Linked DNA regions of Homo sapiens: region 1 is linked to region 2. Evidence: fine-mapped expression QTL. A gene starts in region 2. The other region holds a variant in brackets. All regions are shown on one strand. Distances are from middle to middle.

Region 1 (2,903 bases), 26 kb before region 2:
ATATCCACATATCTTTTAGGTTTTGTTTTGTTTGTTTTTGAGACAGTCTAGCTCTGTCACCCAAGCTGGAGTGCAGTGGCACGATCTCGGCTCACTGCAACATCTGCCTCCCAGGTTCAAGTGATTCTCATGCCTCAGACTTCCGAGTAGCTGGGACTACAGGCATGCACCACTACGCCTGGCTAATTTTTGTGCTTTTAGTAGAGACGGGGTTTCGCCATGTTGGCCAGGCTGGTCTCAAACTCCTGACCTCAGGTGGTCCGCCCACCTCAGCCTCCCAAAGTGCTGGGATTACAGGTGTGAACCATTGCACCCAGCCACATATTTTTTAGTTCTTAAGGCTTGTCCACATGCAATAATAATTCATTTGTAGACCCAGAATCCATCTATTCTACCATAACGTAAGTTTCTAAAAGGCAGAGGCCTTTGTTTTGCTCACTGCTATGTGCCCATCCTGAACTGTGTCAGGCAAACAGTAGGTACGCCATAAATACCTGCTGAATTAATGAAAGAACAAGTGACTGCCCTGCCAATCTTGTGTGGTGGATGGGACAGGTATTACCTATGTTTCCCCTAATTTCACAGATGATAAAAACTAGGGCCCAGGGTGTATGTGGCTTGCTCAGGGTCACGTGGGTGATGTGTTGGAGAATAAGAATAGATACTGGTTCTCTAGGACTTGGTCCAGTGACTCACCCTCTCCCCACGATAACTTTCAGGGAGTGAGAAGAATGAAAACAAAGGCCAGGCATCGTGGCTTATGCCTGTAATCCAGGCACTTAGGAGACCGAGGCAGGCAGATTGCTTGAGATCGGAAGTTCGAGACCAGCCCAGCCAACATGGTGAAAAGCTGTCTCTACTAAAAATACAAAAATTAGCTGGGCGCAGGCCTGAAGTCCCAGCTACTCGGGAGGCTGAGGCAGGAGAACCTCTGGAACCCGGGAGGCAGAGGTTGCAGTGAGCTGAGATCATGCCACTGCATTCCAGTCTGGGTGATAGAGTGAGACTTTGTCTCAAATTAAAAAAAAAAAAAAAAGAAAAGGAAAAGAAAAAAAACAAAGATGACCACAAATCTTTGTGGCCTTGAATGTGACTGCTCTGGGCTGGAGGTGAGACAGCTGAGTGAACGCCTTGTATTTGACAGCGACCCCATCCTTCCCCTCTTCGCCCTGCTCCCACCCTCACAGCCCCTTCCCTCAGCTCACCTGCTCTAAGTCCCAGTAGCTGCGAATGTCCTCCTCTGAGTCGTACAAGGAGAGCTCAGCATCCCCTGGAGCCTGGAAGGGAGGAAGCCAGTGCAGAATGAGCTTCAGTGACTGAACAGCAAAGTTGGTGCATGGTGGCAGGAAAAGGGACAGGTGGCCGGCTCTGGTTGGACGCTGCTTCCTGACACATGACTTATCCTCTTGCCCCTTCCCTTACCTGCCTCACAAAAACAGCACGGCTGTGGTCTTCCCCCTTATACCAGACAGGTGTGTATCGCGGTCTTCCCTCCTTTGTGGGCCGTTAGAGGCAGGGAAGGTTTTACTCAGCTTAGAAAAACTATTGGCTAGCTGCCTGACCTTGGGGAATTCCTGTCCTCCTGGGAATATATTTTCTAATCTGTT[C/A]AAGTCTGATAACCAGCCTCACTTTGCCTGCTTTGTCCCTCACAATGCTGTTGAAAAGGTGTGTGTTTATGTGTGTGATTTGTATCTGTGAATGGTCTATAATATGTAAGTATATATTATATAAAATATAAATTATTTATAAGTCTATGACTAATCAAGTATACATACCAACTAGAGTAGCTGAACATGATTAGGGCACTAACAACTAATGCAGCTTCCTCCAGAATCTCCCTCTTTGCTCTGCGGACAAATTCACGAAGCAGGAAAGCCCGTTGTTTCCCCAGGGTTTCCCTCTAGGCATGGAGGGCAGGAGCCAGCGCCCTGTGTGTTCCTGGGCAGTCTTTCAGCACTTAGAACAGATGGTTTCACCTTCATCAGTCTCTTAAGGCAAAGAGCAAATCATTGCTCTAGGGCCAGAAAAGCCTTTCTTATGACCCACAGAGGGCAGGGGAGGTTTTTACCCAGGGCTGGGGCACAACAAGAGTCTTGGGAGGCCAAGGGCAGGAGCTGAGCTGGGAGGGGACCCTGAGGGCTAGAGATGACTGGGGATCTGGGCAGGGACCCCAAGGAGGTAGGCTTTTTCTGACTCCCCAGTCTTCTGGAGTTTTAGATGGTGTTATTTGTATCCCATTTGTAACTTACTGAGCTAGTAAATTAAATGTCAAAAAGCTGAGACAAAACTCAGACCCAATCTCTTTATCCCTCACCAGCCTGAAATCTCTAAGCTCCGGTAAGTTAAAATGGGTAGGCTTACTCCCCTCCCCTCCCTTCCCGAAAGCCCCCTTTAGAAAGAGATGAGGAGGAGGCAGGGAACGATGCCAGCAGAGTGGGCCTGCTCTACTATGCTTTGGGTGTTTGTGCAACCAGAAAACTTATATTGATAAAGAATTTTTACAATACACAAAGTGCTTTCAAGTGACACAAAAGATGTAATTATCATTTAACCCTAAAACAAAATAAAAGAAAAATGCAGAGAGGTAGGTAATGTTAGTTGATGGTGCTCATTCTATAGATAAGGAAACAGATTCAGAAAACTGAAATGGCAGACTTGATATTGGAACTTAAACCTTCTCCTGTGTTCTTTCTAATAATGCCTCTTGGTCCTGCTATTTCAGTGCCTTGGAGCCTAGGATTCCCCAGGTGCAAGAACCTTACCCCTTGGAAGTTGTGTCCTGGGGTCACGTCTCTAGCATTTGCCTGGGCAAAGAGGACTGCGTCATGTATGCTGGGAAAGACGTGCTTGCATTCTAGACTCCCATCCTCAAAGACGCCTCCATGGCTAATGTCATTGTACAC
Region 2 (2,903 bases):
GAAGACTCTGGGCATTAAAAGATAAAGAGGAGTCCGTCTCTGCCCCAGGGTTTATACAAATGAGACTCAGAGAGCAGGTGGCTAGCTCTGGGAAGTGCCTGGGAAGGCCTTCCTGGCAGTGGAGGTGCTCTTGGCCATGCTGGTCTCCATGCTGCCCAAGCAGGGTCTTGCCAGGTTCTGGATGCCAGGGCCAGGATGAGGGAGGTGGGGGAGGACTGTGGGGTTCTGAGAAAGGGTCATCTGCATGAGTGAAGCCACTCAGGGGGAAAGCCCTCTCTCAGTCTGCCCACTTGGGGGGCTGCGTCACTCCAGGGTCTTCTGGTCCTCAGACCCGTGGGGCCAAGTGTAAGGGGGCAGTTGATGCTGGAATAATAGAAGCTTTGTTAGGTCTCAGCTGGGGACCCTCTGGGCTGGTTTTGAGGAATGGGGGCACTGCCTGAGAGTGGCTTGGAACCCCTTGGAGCTGCAGGATGAGGGGTTTGGAGGCTGAGAGCCTGGAGAGCTGGCTGCCCATCCACTGTCCTGGCCCAAGCCCTTCTGTGTTGAAGCATTCACCATTGAGTCGGGCGTCCCAGGTCCAGCTACCGCCCACCCGCCTGCCTGATGGAGCTGGTCCCTTGCTCACCCTCTCCCACTCCTCAGTTTCCTCCCCCTCCACCTCTTCCAACTTCTCAGGACTAATGGGGACACATGGGATTCTGTGTAGTCCATGCTAAGTTCCCCGAGCTGGTGGAGAAGTACATGAGTGAAGGAGGATGTCTGGGCGGTAGAAGGAGGGGGAGACAGCCATGCAGAGTAGGCTGGTGAGTCAAGCATTAAGAGCTTTTCCCTCCAAGACTTGAAAAGAAAGGGAGAGGAGCAGCCCACAGCTTCAAAGGCTGTCGCGGAGGAAGGTCTAACATTTTCCTTTCCCTCGGAGGCCTTTGCCTCGCTCTGTTTCGGGGTCTGGCGACCACCACACCCTCACCCTACTTGCTCCCTCAGTCAAGCCCAGCCTTGCAGCCCAGGTCCTTACATAGACGTGAAGACCCAAAGGGCTCCTCAGAGGGGAAGGGCTGGGAGGCTGCTCTCAGACTCCAGGGGCCAGAGTGTCCTTCCTACTTGTGCTCAGCTTGGCAGTTGGTTCCTGTCATCCCTCCTCTCGGTACCCCTGGTGACTGCCCTCTTGCAGGGATGACCCCAGCCCAGTGGGGTGGGCTGGGCTGGGTGGGGCTTACCAGTGGGTGAGCAAAGCCGGCTGGGCAGGGCTGCAGGTGTGTCTGGGGAGCGGGCAGCCGAAAGGTGTTCCTGAGGTGTGTGAAAGGGCTCTGCTCAAATAATCCAGGGAGGCGTTTATAAATAACTTTTCCTCAGGGCCACGGGGTGAGCCCCGGCTTCTGATTGGCTCAGAGGGGAAGTGGTTTTGAACACTACACCATAGCTAAGCCTGAGGAGATAGGAAAAGGAGATAAGGGGGAAAAGGTCCCAAATGAACAGCCCTTTTTTTGTTTTACCTGGGGAGCAGGGCTGTGTGATGGGAGCTTGGCACTTCCTAAATCCACCCCGAAGACAATAGGTCACATTCAGCGGGGCTCCTGCCCCACCGGCTCCCCCAAGGCGGCCCTGGAGGAGGGGGACGAGGCAGAGGAGGGGGACAAGGCAGGACAAGCTCCTCTGAGCTTGCTGTCCTGCTGCTTATGGGGCTGGGGGTCAGGCCAAAGAGCCTCTTGGACAATGGGAGCTATTGAGGCCACCTGAGGGGTGTGCTCTTGGGGATGCTTGCTTTGAAGATTGGAGATCTAGGGGGTGGGAAGACAGTAGTCCTCTGAACACCCCTGAGGAAGGGGAAGAACCATGTCTGGGAGGCCCTGGGAGCCTTTAGGCGGTTTTGGTTTGTGGTGGAGACCTGGTTCCCAGTTCTGTCCCCAATGTTAAGTTGCTTGTGAGCTCTGTGCCTTGGTCTATCCATCAGTGCAATGGGGGAAATTATTCCTGGCCCCTCAGGTAGTGTGCAAAGAGAACACAGGGGTTTAGAATCTGATAAAAGAGCTCAAGAAACTGGACTTAGAACAATTATATGAGAGGCGACCTGAAGGCTAGCAAATCTCCAGTCACAGCCCTCTGCCGCTTCTAGGAATTAATGTCTCCCTGGGTCATGGCACTGCTCCGGCTGCTGCCAGCAGAGCTGCCCATCCCAGGCCCATTGAGTGCTACGGAAGGACCTCAGAAAGCAATTGTGGACAGGGGCTGGGAGGGTGGGTAGGGGAGTTTCTTAATTTACTTCCTGGGAGGGAGAGTCACTACCCGACACCAGGTGCCCATTCTTTGAGACATCAAGTGCTGCACTGTCCTCGTCCTCAACTGTCCTCCCATCTCTCCAAAAGAAACCAGAGGCTCTGAAGTGGGCTGGAATCAGTGCAGGGGGCTTCAGTAAGGCACCTCTGGAAGTTGGGGCGAAAGTTCCCCATGGTGAAATGAGCTAGCTTCAGTACTTAATAGGGACTCAATAAATATTTGTTAAATGAATGAAAGAGTGAATTGTCTGCAAGCCCAACCCAAGGGATAGTTTGTAGATGCATTGCTTGTGGGGACTAGGGAAACACCCGAGGTCACTCAGAGTTGTCAGGGTGTAGCCAGACAACTGGCTGAAGAGAGCCAGAATTCAAGTGACCCAAGTGTGCCCTGACACCTGGCTGAGGGAAGGATGTGTGCATGGACACTGCCTCGGGGAGCCCTTCCCCAGACCCCTATGTGGACTTAGCTGACATGTTGCACATTCGTTCCTCTGGCTTCCTCTGCTTCACTCTCATAACACTGACCACAATTAATGGTAATTATGTATGGAATTGTCAGTCTTTCTGCAAACACCGTGAACTCCCTGAGGAGGGCAAGGGGGCAGTGCCTCTTTTGTATCCCTACCCACC

Which allele goes with the higher level. Alleles are on the strand shown, and positions count from the first base shown. SD is a standard deviation of normalised expression in the study named.
In carriers of allele C in region 1, the expression in esophagus mucosa of the gene that starts at base 1,309 in region 2 tends to be higher than with A alone (small effect, 0.26 SD a copy in GTEx).

Evidence for each region.
Region 1: its variant is fine-mapped to the expression of SLC26A9 in esophagus mucosa (GTEx, PIP above 0.99).

What each region holds. Positions count from the first base shown.
Region 1 is chr1:205,916,078-205,918,980 of GRCh38, forward strand. It overlaps SLC26A9 (solute carrier family 26 member 9), which reads right to left. Exons shown (of 21, transcript NM_052934.4): 19 at 2,763-2,903; 20 at 1,206-1,277. Among named protein-coding and RNA genes, the nearest start is that of SLC26A9-AS1, 17 kb to the right of the region's middle. The variant C/A (reference allele first, on the strand shown) is at 1,608.
Region 2 is chr1:205,942,148-205,945,050 of GRCh38, forward strand. SLC26A9 (solute carrier family 26 member 9) reads right to left here and starts at 1,309. Exons shown (of 21, transcript NM_052934.4): 1 at 1,218-1,309. The region is part of intron 2 of SLC26A9-AS1 (SLC26A9 and RAB7B antisense RNA 1); the gene reads left to right.